Linked DNA regions of Homo sapiens. The protein of the gene in region 2 interacts with the protein of the main gene of each other region in a pairwise test. Each region holds a gene or a part of one and is shown on either strand. Other genes may lie near its edges.

Region 1 (8,141 bases), on a different chromosome or scaffold from region 2:
GAAATATTTGGCCTCGTTTGGTGAAGGGCTTCTTTCCTGGGCTGCAGTGTGGAGCCTGAGGAGAATGTCTGAGGGCAGCAGGGAGGGGACTGTGAATTGAGGCAGCAATAGATTGGTTATTTTTGAGGTTATTTTTTCTTTCTTTTGTGTGTGTGTGTGTGTGTGTGTGTGTGCCAAAGATTTACTTGTTCATTTCTTGCATTTGAAGTACTCTTCAATGACATCCTTGGCCTGAGACTCCTTGCCATAGTTCGTAACTACTATACAACTTCAACCAACCACTTTACACGGTTTCCCCTCTCTGTCAGTTTTACAGAGGCCTACCGATTCCCCTAGTTTCTGGTCATCAACCTTAATTAGGTTGATTTGGTGTTCAGCACAAAGGGCCTCCACCAACTTGACATACATAGGCTCATCACAGTTGGATGCAAGCACACACAGCACACAAAGATGGGCTTGGCACTTGTCTGAGGCTTTGGCAGCTTTGCAAATTTCATATGCTAGGCCATCATGGATGAGGGCGGTCTTCAGCACCTCCTGTAAAACAGTATTAATGTCCATTACACCTCCAGCAGCACTGCCTTCCTCGGCCATGGCAGTGGGTTACGAGTGAAGCCGGATCTTGAATGCACCCGAGACTCCGCCTCTATACAATTCAGTGGCAGCAGGGAAAGAGCAGGAGCCAGATTTCTTATAGTCAGAGAATTACAAATTTGGAAAGGGTGAAAACTAGAATAAGGTTGGAATTGGAAGTACTGGTATAAACTCCTACAGCTTTCGGTATGTGTAGATACAGAGATGTATAGGTGTGTGTGTATGAGTGGGGTGTGTGTGTGTGTGCATGCACATGCATTCATGTTTGTTCCCTAGCTCTGTTCCATGAGAGGGCTTGGGAACAGCAATGGCACCAAACAATGAGCATACCTACTGCCCAGATCTTGGTTTCTAAATACCATTTTCTGCTAAAAGAGACCAGATCTTAGAGAAAAAGCACCTTGCAGAGTTAGTGCAGAGGAAATACAAAGATGAGCATGGAATGTCTTTTTGTATTAGAAAGTAAGAACATGCTCCAAGAATGATGGGGACATACCAAAGGACACAGAAGCCAGCTTGAAGGGGTCGCCACTGGCCAAACGAACAAATTACAACTTCTCAAATAAAATAAGCCACAAGTCCACATGATATAAATCAATGAATAAATTGGAGAGAAGGGAAAGCTCTACCTTTTAGGGTAATGCCAACCAACAAATGTAAAAGGAATGATGGAATTAGAAAATCTGTATTTGGCAATCATTGTGGTACTGATTGATTCAGGTGAACATCTTCAATGGATGCTAAAACTAGTGAGTGAAAGTTGGATGATCTCTCTACAAGATACTTATTAACTACAAGGGGCAAAAAGAATAACCATAAAAGTGGAGAAGCCTCGTGATAATACCTAATCAATTGACCAAAGCCCCAGCCAGCAACTGGACAAATCAAAACTGTGTGACACCTGATAAGATGCAAGAAGACAATCTCTCTTTTGTGGTGTTCTTGCCAAAAAGGTACAATCTGAATCTAATAAAAAGGAAACATCAGGCAAACCCAAATTGAGGAACAGTCTACAAAATAACTGACCTGAAGTGTTCAAAAATGTTAAAGTAATTAAAGTCAAGAAAGACAAACTTCTTTTAAGAGTGGTGGAGACTAAAGAGACGTAACAAAATGCAATGTGAGCACTTGACTATGAAGGACACTGATGGGACAACTGGCAACTTGAACGGGGTCTGTGGGTTAGATGGTAATATACCAGTGTTAATTTCCTGGTTTTGATCACTGTGTTGTGGTTAAGTAAAAGAATGTCCTTGTTTGTAGAAATTACACACTGAAGCCTTTAAGATCATGAGACAGCACTGGCTCCATGGTTCAGGGAAAAAGGTTCTTTGTACTTTAACTTTTCCTGTAAGTTTGGAATTATTTCAAAATTTAAAAATTCAAAATAGAATCATAAAAGTAATATTTTTCATAATAAACAAGGGTAGCCTTTGTTAAAAAATCAGAAAAGCTGATATCAAAGTTCATTCTCTTATGTGGACTTAAAAATCAAAGAATAATTAGCTCCAAAAGAAAAGATTTGCCAAGTAAGATGTTTTTCTCTTACAAAATGGAAATTTAACTTCTAAATTTACTTCACATAACTTGCAAATGTAACCGGTTTTCTTACTTGGACATTTTTCATTTTACCAACTTTATTTTCTTTTGACTTTTCCAGGTATTCAGAGTTGATGTTTTTCCTAAAATAAACCACAGACTATATTTGGGACTATATAAGAGATACTAAGAAGTACAAAGGGCTCTTTCTCTTAAGTGTTATGAAAAAGACTTTGAATTTAAATAAAGCTTACAAAGAAATCATAAAACTAATTTTAAAATGCTTTTATGTAGGCAAAAGGGAAACTATAGTACTCTCACTACTTAATATTTCCAGTTCTGCCTAAAACAAAGACATACATTAATTTTTAACAATCTTTGTCTCAAAATTCTAGGAACATTTGGAAGAAGTATTTAAAGCTAATGCTTACTCTTTGCGTGAAATTTTATATAATCTCAGGAATAGAAATTTAAGAAATAGAAATCTTCTCATTTCAGTTTGCTAAGCACATTCTTCATTCTTACATATTACAGGTCCACTAGATTCAAAGGTAAGCCAAAAATACCATGCAAAAGACTGCCTCCTAAATTATTTAAATCTCTTTTGTAGCAAAATTTTCCCAGAAACTGAGGAACATCCACACAGAAATTCTTACCTTTTTATCAAAAGTTTGTTATCCTTTTCTCATTTTCTGGGCCTTTCAATGCATTGGCATTGACAAGAGTGAAAAAATTATTTGCTGTTATTTGCATATCAAACACATGGTTTCAACGTGGTATGAAACTATGTTGGTTCCAACGTGGCTGACTCCTTTGTGTCCATTAAAACCATTTTCCTCATATCTAAAGTGAATCTTGGTATCTGTGATTTATGTTTAATATAGAGATGGGAAATGGTTAGTAATCTAATACTAGTCAAGTCACATGTATTCTTAAAAAAAGCTCAAATAGTTGAATTAGGGTGATGGAAATTATACTCAAATCTGAAATTGTAATGAGGCTCCTTTCTGAAACTTAAATGACCCATTCATTTTTTTTAGGTTTAGCTTAATGTTTTTCCTCTTCATAATACCAACTGAGGTTTAACTTAATAACAAATGGTAACTATATAAGATTGTATTAAATAGTCTTGGGCTATTTTTTGGTAAGCTCTTTGATTTGGTAACTACATTCCAAAAGTTAATTATCAGTTACATGAGTTTAAATGGCATCCATAGCTGCCCCTTCACACAAACAGGTGCTCAGTAATAGGGCTTATTAGAAAGACCCTAGAAACCAAGAAACTTCAGTTCTAGTCCTCAATATAGAAGTAGCTAACAATTTTGGATAAGTCATTTAACTTCTAGTCTTTGGTTTCCATATTTATAAAATGGAGACAATATCCTATCTACTTTAATAAGGTATTATTAAAATGTTTATAATTGGATAATATATTGAAGCATTCTGAAATAATACCAGTTCGTCTTTGTTTAGCAATCTCAATTTTTCAAATTCTTAACCCTGGGATTGAAGTTATTAAAGGCACTTGTTTCTCCTTATTTAAAAGATTTATGAAAGGCTCCTACCATGGCATGCCTTGGCTCCTACGGTTTTACTTTCCCTCCACAGGAAACCTATATTGACAATTTTAGATTGTCAAAATTCTTTCTTAATGAAAGTATTAATGAGAATTATTTCATTATTCATAGTTTGGTTAAGATTTATGACAAATCACAGCCAAAAGAACTTCATTGGTAATAGCTTGTTTGAGGCTTCCTGGGGAAAATAATGATGTCAGATTTGCATTTGCAATCTTAGACTATTATAGGATATTATGCTGCATAAATCTAGATATAACTTTTATTCAGATAATTTACAAAAATTAGAACATGATTTTAAAGGTGGTATATCTCTTGTGGAGGGAAATCTTGCTGAAATTACAGCTTCTTAGGTTAACAGAGAATGTGTCCTGTTTGTGCACCTCTCTAAATGAAAGAATTAAGGAGAATTATTTCATTATTCATAGTTTGGTTTGTGGGGGTGAAAGAGGGAATGAGAAAAATCCTAAGACATCCTTGGAACAATTTAACACAAAATATACACATATATAGATCCTGAGATGTTACAACAAATTAACAATTATATAGATCAACATGATCCAAATAGTTTTCAAGACACCGTTATGGTGGGTAAACAGCCATTTTACGGCATGTGCTCCATGGATGTCCACATCATGCCAGGAAAACCATACTCTTTGTCTCCAAATTTGAAAGCTAGTCATCCAGAGCAGGTGGCCAGTCAACATCTACAGACTAGAAGGGAGAAAAGAAGTCATTAAAACAGATATTACTGTTGTGGTAAGCATTTGCTGGTAATGCTGTATAAATTTAATAGTTTTAATATAGTGCAACAGAAGAAACTGCATTTGAAGAAAAGAGCTATTGAATACCATAAATTAACCCTCAAGTCTGTTCTAGGTATTCTTGGGCCTGAGGTCTTCTGAATTAATTGAGTAGCAGTATTTGGCTACTCAGTTGGTTATTAACTGTGCTTTTTGACTGATAAGAGAATACATTTAAATTTTTTAAATGGTATTTATGGGGCCAGGTGTGGTGGCTCACACCTTTAATCCCAGCACTTTGGGAGGCCGATCAATTATATAGATCAACATGATCAAGGTGGGCAGACCACTCAAAGTCAAGAGTTCAAGACCAGCCTGGCCAACATGGCAAAACCCCGTCTCCACTAAAAATGCAAAATTTAGCCAAGCATGGTGGCACACGCCTGTAGTCCTAGCTACTCAGGAAGCTGAGGCAGGAGAACAGCTTGAGCCCAGGAGGCAGAGGTTGCAGTGAGCCGAAATCACGCCACAGCACTCCAGCCTGGGTGACAGAATGAGACCCTATCTATCTCAGAAAAAAAAAAAAAAAAAAAAGTATTTATGGGTAAAAGTAGCAAACAAATTCAAGTGACCACCAATTTTCCCTCAGAAGTCTCAGAAACTTTTATTCTTCTGATCATTTTTATTCTCTCATCTTGCATTTAACAAATATTCAAGTAGTCTATAAGCCTATAGTCTTGTTGTAACACAGCAACAAAATGTGAAATAAATGATTATGAAAGATGACCTGGAACCAGAAAAGGATTAAGGATCTTTGTGCTTCAGTTCTGTAGAATTTCTGTTTCTTTAAAATCCAGTTCATCTATCTCTACTTACCTTTATTTTGTTCTTCTAGGACAAAACCTTGATCTTTGAGTCAGAATGAAATTACAGTAAACAGACTATTTGTCTCCACATAAACACATACCAGGTCTATCAAAGGCTAGGGGATCTACTTTAAGAGAAAGTTAAAAAAAAAAAAAAACCCACCGTATCTATCTGTGGCTTTTATTGACATTTAAAGTTTAAAACATAAAATTATTTACTGAAAATTTTTTCATTAATCCATGAGTCACTTCACGTACTGGCTTCAAAAAAAATTTATTAGAAAAGCCTAAATAGCTATGTGTGTGTGTGTCTTTTACAAATCTCAAGAAGATATTTTTGTTCTGTTTCAGAATATAGCCATATACCAAACACCCAAATGTAAATTAATGAGTGTTTTCTCAAGCTGAAAATAAAACATGACTGATCACAATCTTGTGTGTGTGTGTGTGTGTGTGTGTGTGTGTGGAGGGGAGGCAAGTTGTAGTGCTTAAAAAGCTCCACAAGTGATTCCAGTGGGCAGTCAGTGTTGAGAAACACTGGCCTGTGAGTCTTTGACACTCCTAACTGTTCTGAGAATTAAAGTAAAAAAAGATTAATGCAAGCCTGGGCAACACGGTGAGACCCCATCTCAACAACAACAACAACAAAAAAACGCCAGGCATAGTGGCTCATGCCTGTGGTCCCAGCTACTCGGGAGACTGAGGCAGGGGATCGCTTGAGCCCGAGAGGTCAGGGTTGCAGTGACCCGTGATCGCACCACTGCACTCCAGCCTGGGTGACAGTGCAAGACCCTGTCTCAAAAAAAAAAAAAGATGATGAGTAGAGATTTTCTTTAACAGAAGGTTTTCTTCCTCCAAATGATAGTTTCACTGAAGAGGCTCCCTGCAACCTTGAGGGCACGATCACTGGCTGTACTGCAGGAGCTAATCTAATCCCAGAGCACTTGAGAGAATTGCTGGTAAGGAAGTAATACTCCAGTGATCATTTGATTACCATAGATGTTTTCACATTGGGCAACTATGCCCACTTCTTTCTATAACTTTGATATTATTCCCAAGTACAAATCCCCAAGTCCTAAGATTCTGGGGAGAGGAGCGGGGGAGGTACTCTATTCCTAGTCAGATTTTCATGAAGAAACACCACTCGTGACTCAACACCTATTGATACTCAAATGAAATATTTATGGAGACTTGCCCGACAGAACCATTCTTACAATTACTTTAGAATTTAACCTTGTTTCAATTCAGACTGTAAGAGCAGAGAACTTGGACCACATCACAGGGGTCCTTATAGAACTGCTTTTATGAAGAACCATTGGCTCACCTCACTTTCTACCCTTGTGAATCCATGTTTCTGAATATGCTGCTTTAAAGTCTTTATAAAACGCAACAGGTATGGAAATGACTATTTCCGTGCTTGGTTTAAGGGTTTAGATTTGATACTACATGTAAAGCACAGTTAATAAATTAGCTATATATTTTCAAGGAACATAAATGAGACCTCATATTAAAAAAAAAAATCCGAAGACAGTCCCTCCCTTCAATACAATGTTACTGTGAGATTTTCACCATTCTCAAATACCTATGGAGGTGGGTGATACTAAAATGGCTTAATGCCAAAGAGCATAACTTTGGTTGAATTCAATTTGCCAATGTGCATTCCACAACAAAATGGTTTACCTCAACATCCAGCTCCAGAATGTCTGCAGTCACATTCATCAGGGACCCAATGTTTGGCTTGGTTCTCCCGAAGTCTCCATGTACAAACTCTTTAATGTAGCTGGGGTTTGTTTAAGGAAAAAATGAAGACAGCATGCTGTACCAACTATTTGGTAAGATTTGACAGGCAAAAATAATAATAAGAGCAGAAATGTTACAAAAGAAAGGTTACTTCTGAGCTCTGACTTGTGTGTCTTAAAAAATAAGCTTTGGCAATGTGGTCCCTAGTAGCCTGGCAGCCAACATCAGAGCCTGGGAAATGTGTTTACATCAAACTTACCAAAAATCATTACTTTCTTTTTTCTTTATAGCTCATCTCCAAGTGCCAAGGTTTGGATGTGGATTTTAAAAATTAACCATAGCTCAATGCTTTTATTAAAAAACAACTTTGCCACAATTTCTATGTTATTATCTTGTTAGTCCCATTTTTTTAATAATGGCAACTGTCACCTGCCAGATGGTAGGTTTCCACAGAGCCACACAGAGAGTGATCTCAATGATGGCATTCCTTGTAACATGACCCAGAGGCAATAGGGTGGAAGGAATAATGAGACTATTAGTTTAGTCTTAATGATGGCTCTTCGGAAGGATTACCAAAGACCTACCGTCTAGTTTGCTAACATGGTTAGCAAAAGAACTAAGTTAATTCTCTCTCTCTTTCTTAAAGGGGCAACTTTGTATTTCTCTCAAAATTGTATTTCAAATTTTGAAATCAATAACTAATTCTAGAATTTGTTTTTAAGATTAACATTCCTTACATAGGACTGTACTGCAGCTTTGACAATATTTATCTAAAAGATTTGTTTTTGCCAGAATTTGGTAAAAATGCAGCATTATGTTTTGTTCTACAAACCAGCATTTAGTAGAAAATAATTAATGGAACTTGAATAGAGAAATAAATTTGTTTCCAGATGATGAAAAATCTATATTATAATATGCTGATATTATGTCCTCACTTTCTGAACGTTTTACTCACTCTACCTTTGCCAAATGTTTTGACTAAAGCATAAGACATATAATTATCTAGTAACTGTGTTTTTTGGTAAACTCACAACTACCCAACAATTATTATCCATTTTCTCTCATTTTCTTTAAAGAATCCC
Region 2 (6,663 bases):
CATCATGTGATGAAGCTGACATTTTTAAAAATCAAATGATCCTTTATCTTTTCAGAAATTCATCAATTTTATAAAGAAAACAATATTGAAATTTTGCTCTATTTTCTGATCATGAAACTGATTGTAAAGCTTTTTGACAACTAATAAATGTCTTGGTAATTGCTAGATTCTAATTGTAGTGTGATTTTTAAAATAGAACATTGCACTAATGTTCTTTAAAAGTCAAACCAAATATCCCAACTGTCTCAAGGACAATTTAATCCACAAGAAGCTATTTTGAATATGTGCTTAGCTTTGGCATATTTTACCTTAACTGTTTTCTTTATCATCTAGATCACTAATGTCAGCAGCAAACATACAGTAGTCTGGGTGAATGCAGGGTTTTCCTTAAACCTGTGGACTCTTCAATCCCTCTGTTTACCAAGTGTGACAAAAATCCCCTTGATGACCCTGTCCCAGATTGTCCATGCCAGCAGCAAGTTTGTTCCCTAATAAGCATTTTGTACAGCAAGGGTGGGTCTGCTGTGCTGTGTATGTCCCTCACCTACTCCCAAAAGTAAGGTAATGGAACTCCACAGAATCCTGGAACAACTCCTGGAGAGTATGAGATGGGTTTTTGGTTCTAGTTCTAGCATAGCTGGCCAGTCTGCCCTGAATATTAGCTGGGATTCTAAGCCTATCTTATAGACTTAAAAGATATTTTGAACTTTCTCAGTATTGATTGATGGAATGGAAGACAAAGACAGAATAAGGAAGCCAAGAATCTATTTAAATTCTGAATATCACACATTTGAAATGTTCACTATAAAACAAAACAAAAAACATCTTTCTTTAGTCTTTTTAATTTAGGAGTTTAAAGCTTTTCTTGTTTTTGTGGGTGGGGTCATGATTGAAGGATCTGGTTTATAGGTTTTCTCCTTATAATATAGTATGGCCAACTTTGTGTTAGACTTCAGTCGTAGTATTTGTATCTTAATGCTTTGACATTCATTTTGAAATCTAACAGGGTATGTCAGTTATCAAATGGCAGTAGATAATATAAGCTTATCTGATGATCTTTATCTGGGTCAGCCACCACAATCAGTATTCACAAAAGATCCGGAAGAACCACAGTAATGCCAATTGACCACAGCTAGTCAATATTTTATTGAGGAAAATTTTCACTGTAGTCCTTCGGGAGAAAATGTGATGCACTCAGCTCTGTTAATAACCTTTTTAAAATCTTTCCTTAAACAGTCAAAATCATTAAGCATGATTTTTATTCTCTGAAACCAAAGTACTCTTTTAAATTACAATAGAAATAATGGGAGAATGATGTGAGGTAATGTTACATGTAAAATGTTATACACAATTCTTTTACTACGTTTACTGTCATAGTTTTATGACGCCTTCAAGAGTCATTGTGCTACTTAAAGTGAGGATCTGCTGGTTTGTTTATATTTTCAGCTAATAGCACCATCGTGGAGGTGTTTATCCACTTACTACATGTATCATGTCTGGGGGGTATATTTAGGGGGATAGTCATGCTGGCACTCAGATTACAAGTTTTTCCTATGAACCAAAATGTTGTTTTATTTACAAAATAAGTAAGTATTATTTTGTAAATAATTAAAACTTAAAAATTCCAACCCCCACTTGTACTTTCATTAGATAATATTTTTGCATACCTGAAAAAATACTGTTCTCTAGTGAAAGAAAGAGCAAGTGGGGGTTGGGAAGGGGTAACTTATGACTTCAACAGCATAAGAGGATAGATAACCAATGGAATTAATACATCGAATGATTTCTTCTGTATAAAAGTATATTTTATTTAAAAACAGTGATATTGACATGTATGTTATAGCCCTTACAGAAAAATAACACGTTTTATAGTCCTTTTATTTGAAATTCAGTGTAAATCACTCTTAAACTATAAATTCACAGTTGTTGGAGGTTTTTTTTTACTTTAAATGATGTGAAAGCATTTGTTCCATTCAAAGGCCCCTATGCCTTTGAATGACATATTCTCAGTAACTTCTTTGCCAGTAACTAGAGTATGTGAGACTGAGTAACTATAATGTGCATATTTCAAGAATTAGCTTCCCGCTGCATTATAACACATTTCCTAGGAAAGCCTTTGTATTTTTCATAGCCTTTTCACATATCCCTCATTTAAGAAGTCACAGTGTTGCAGTTTTACTTTGTTTCAGAGGGGAAGGCCATCTTGTTGGCATAAGGGGGACAGAAGATATAATATACTCTACACTCCGGCCTCTTCCCTACAACCTAAAAGGGAGAGGAGTTGAGGCAGATGGGCTAGGACTAGGCTTTTTGGTAGGCACATTATAGAAGACTGGGTAAGAAAGGTGGGTTAGGTTTTTTTAAACTTCAAACTGTTAGGAAAACGAGGCAAAAGCAATAACCATACCATATGTTCAAACAGAAGTAGGTTAAAATGTAGTAGTTATCCCTTGGTTTACATAGGGGATTGGTTCCAGGAACTTCCACATATACCCAAATCCATACGTGAGAACTCAAGTCCTGCAGTTGGCCCTTTGGAACCTGAGTATATGAACCTGCTCTATAAGTGGGTTTCGTGTTTGGTTAATGATATATTTTTGACTCGTTTATAGTTGAAAATAGTCCATGCATAAGTGGACCCTTGCAGTTCAAACCTATGTTGCTCAAGGGTCAAATGTATTTACTTCTGGATTATGGGATGATGGGTAAATTATTTTTACTTGGCTACTTAAAACTCTTCTGTATTTTCTAAATCTTCTTCAAAGAGCTTTGTTTGTTTTTAATCAGAAAAACATGCCTTGCATGCCAGTTGTTAGAGAGATGCAAGAGAACAGTGTGAGTACATGGGCAGGCCAGATCTGGCAGGCTGTAGACAAATGGGAACCAAGGCTCATTATGAAGACAGAGAGGGAAAACTAAGTGAAGCACTAGGCCTCCCCTGCATATGGCTGGCTGTTAGGTATGCTTTACATATACTGGTTCTTCTCCTTTAGTACCCTGATGGTTTAGGCCAGGTAACAAGAATCCCACTTTGCTTTTTGTTCCATGTCAATCCTCATGACGTAGCTGTTGTGGCATTAATGCGTTTCACCATGACTTCTTCATATTGTTTTTGTGTCAGTAACCCTTCTGTTATGCTTTTACTTTCTTCAAATTTGGGTAACACAACTGCAATGTAGCCTTCAGTAGATGGCTGGAAAGGAAAGAACATTTAGTACTGTCAAACGATGAAAAAAAAACCAATAAAAGGTATGTGGATGAGATCATATTTTTTCTCTCTCTTTTACCTTTTCTTGAAGAATAGATGGCTTATGGAGGATGTTTTCATTCACTTCCATCAAACGTCCTCTAACACAACTATTAAAAAAATTTAAGATTTCAGCATGTTTACTTAGTTAAAAAAAATTGTTTCTAAGAAAAAAAATTACCTCCCTTTGGTCTCCTAAATGGTGGCTAAAAAGTTACTCACCTAGACACAGTATATTCTTCACCATCTGAGCAGTAAATCTTACAGAGAGGTGCAAGCTCTGTTAGAAACTGTGCCCCCTGTGTAATGAGACGGAAGAAGTAATCAGTTGATGGACATTTCCACTTTCCTTTGAGAAGTAGCCCTTAGGTGTATAACAGGATGTATTCCTGGAACTGGTGTTTTAAATCAGTTACTTCAGTATATAAAAACCATTCATTAATTTCAGAACCTATATGAATATAAGTACCTACTGTGTGCCAGGTGCCATCCTAGGTCTAGGGAAAAAAGCTAAGACACATGATAAATGGGAATTTACAGACTGATAATATATTTTATCAACTGTAAATGAAAAAGCTACATATAACCAGGTATAAAGATTTCAAAAGTGTGGGAAAATCCATCAACAAGAAACAATATAAAATTCAACATGACACAGTATGACAGCAATATTGTATAAAGTTAGTTTCATTAAGATTTCTACCTCATTTTAATATTAGAACTTAATAGATAAAGGAACTTATTTACCAGGGTCAATCACTAAGACTTTTTGAAGAAGGGATATTGTTCTTTCCCCCCCCCCCCTTTGTAATTCCCCAGTGTGTTAGTAAGGGATATTTTTTCTAGTTAAGAAAAACAAAAACAAAAACATGCACTTTGAGGAAAATGTGGAAAACAAAAGTTTTAAGCAGCAAAATAAAAATAATTGACCCATGAGTCAATACTACATTTTGATGTGTATGTATTTGAATGTCATGGCATGGTTATTGTTTCATGTACTCCACTAGATGGATATACCTGGGGAGGCTCTCACAAGTATCTACAGGGAGGCTCATGAGAGCCAGTGCAGGCATGTTTCATGTGTTGCCCTCTTTTCTCCCATGAATTTTTCCTGTAGTGGACATAGGCATTTCAGGTTAAGATGCTATTCTTTATGACCCCTTTATTTACCACTCAAAACATTTTTAGATGGCATTCAGATATTACTATATTGGCTTCACTCCTCCGCACGTGGGTTCTTCATTTTAAAATACTAGAGTCATTGTGACTTTCTGCTTTTGGAAGGAAGGGGAAGGCTTGTGTTAAAAGAGCAGACACAAAAGAGCTAGGTCTGTGCCAAAACAGCAGAAATGTTTTGATGCCTTTTTGTCACCTCCTTTGGGAGAATGATTGGCAGTTCTGAGATCCAGTGAAAACTTACTGTAGTGGGTTCAATATGCAGGTCCCTCTCTGTTCTTCACTTGTAACAGGAGTGTTACTTTTTTTTTTTTTTTTTTTTGAGACAGGGTCTTGTTCTGTCATCCAGGCTGGAGTGCAGTGCTGCCATCATGGCTCACTGCAGCCTTGACTCCTGTGCTCAAGCAATCCTCTTACCTCAGCCTCCTGGGTAACTGGGACTATAGGCACATGCCACCATGCCCAGCTAATTAAAAAAAAATTTTTTTTTTTTGGTAGAAATGAGGTCTTGTTATGTTGCCTAGGTTTGTCACAAATTCCTGGCCTCAAGTGATCTTCCCGCCTCGGCTTCCCAAAGTGCTGGGATTACAGGCATGAGCAACTGTACCTGCCTTAAGTGTTACTATTTTGGACAGAGATTTATCATTGAAACTTCAGAAGTCTTAAGTGTTATTGTAACTTGTAGACTATCGTTTAAGAGAGGTGCATGCTTTTCTAAGTCCACTAGTTTCTTGAGTGAGGAAAAATCAGTAATTGTAAAGCACAATAAATCAGTAATTATTAGGGGACTTCAGGCCTACAAAGGGGGGTTTGAATAAGGGTCTCCTAGAATAGTGAGAGCAATTAGCAGAAACTCTTAGTATGAACTCAGTAAATGAACGACTTAAATCATCCACAGAAACTTTCCCAACCAGTGGGTTTGTTAAGACATTTTAACATGTCACTAAATTCTCCTTGGCATGATACTCTTTTAATAATCTGTCCATTTTGCCTAGAGTTACAGAGGGTAGAGATAGCATTCTATATAACCGAGTGTTGTGTGCAGGTACAGGGGGTGGGTACATGAGTATTACATTGACAATGCTTTAGGAATGGAAAAACAGTAAGGAGCAAATATATTTTCTCGTATTCATGTTTTTGTTTTTGTTTTTTTGAGACGGAGTCTTGGTCTTGCTCTGCCGCTCAGGCTGGAGTGCAGTGGTGCGATCTCAGCTCACTGCAACCTCCGCCTCCCAGGTTCAAGCCATTCTCCTGCCTCAGCCTCCCGAGTGGCTGGGATTACAGGTGCCCACTACTGTGCCTGGCTAATTTTTGTATTTTTATAGAGATGGGTTTTCACCCCGTTGGCCAGGCTAGTCTCAAACTCCTGACCTCATGATCCACCCACCTTGGTCTCCCAAAATGCTGAGATTATAGGCGTGAGCCATTGTGACCGGCCCATGTTTTTCTTTTTTTTTTTCTAACTCCCTTGGGAATTTTTTTTCTGTTTAATTTACATGTGGAAATATATGGTAAAGAAGAGTTAGTCACCTAAATTTTACAGAACTCGACATACTAGTTTAATACAACTAGAAGGGACAAAATATCTTGTTATATTGCTATTAGAGTTCTCCTTTCAAAGGCCTGCCTTCCCCCTCCTCCATCCTGGGCATTATAGGGATAGTAGCACAGAACCTAATATAACAGATACTACACCTCCTGAGATACCTAATTTGGGGGAGCTGAGAATTTCTTTAGGTGAAAGTATACCTAAAATTAGCACCTCAAACTGCTAGAGAAGTATGCTAAGCATATGCTACTGGATTCTAAGGTTCATTGGATCTGTCATTACCATGAATATAGAGGATGTAAGTAGATAATCACAGAATTACAGGAACATACCCGCTTAAATTTCCCAGAGACCTTGTTCTGAAGTCTGCTACAGTTGGTACTGATCTGATAGGAAATGCTTTTAATTGTTTTTCCACTTTGAAGAACTGGATGAGATTCTGCCAATGTGATGACACATATTCTACAAGGAGAAAAAGTTGATCCTGTGTGATTGCTTGGAATAATTTTTCCTCCCATAACTCCTATTGGAACAAGAATGTATGAACTGGTATTTGTTTAGTCAAACTATCATCTTCCCCCTTTTTCCTTTGGCTACTATTGGGGCATAACTGTAGAATAGAGAATACAATAATAAAAGAGAAAACAAGATTGAATTTCTTTCCCAGGAAAGGGAAGAGTACCAGAGGTCT

What was found.
Region 1: the proteins of ABITRAM (region 2) and PUS10 interact in binary tests that used the Homo sapiens proteins (3 or more experiments, as listed by UniProt).

Annotation. Positions count from the first base shown.
Region 1 is NC_000002.12:60,938,010-60,946,150, forward strand, and holds the end of PUS10 (tRNA pseudouridine synthase Pus10), read right to left. Parts: intron 7,100-8,141; coding exon 7,000-7,099; intron 4,425-6,999; coding exon 4,386-4,424; 3' UTR 2,214-4,385; downstream 1-2,213. UniProt on the Homo sapiens protein: Protein with different functions depending on its subcellular location: involved in miRNA processing in the nucleus and acts as a tRNA pseudouridylate synthase in the cytoplasm.
Region 2 is NC_000009.12:108,936,079-108,942,741, reverse strand, and holds the end of ABITRAM (protein Abitram), read right to left. Parts: intron 6,435-6,663; coding exon 6,305-6,434; intron 3,547-6,304; coding exon 3,470-3,546; intron 3,358-3,469; coding exon 3,288-3,357; intron 3,194-3,287; coding exon 3,056-3,193; 3' UTR 1,788-3,055; downstream 1-1,787. UniProt on the Homo sapiens protein: Actin-binding protein that regulates actin polymerization, filopodia dynamics and increases the branching of proximal dendrites of developing neurons.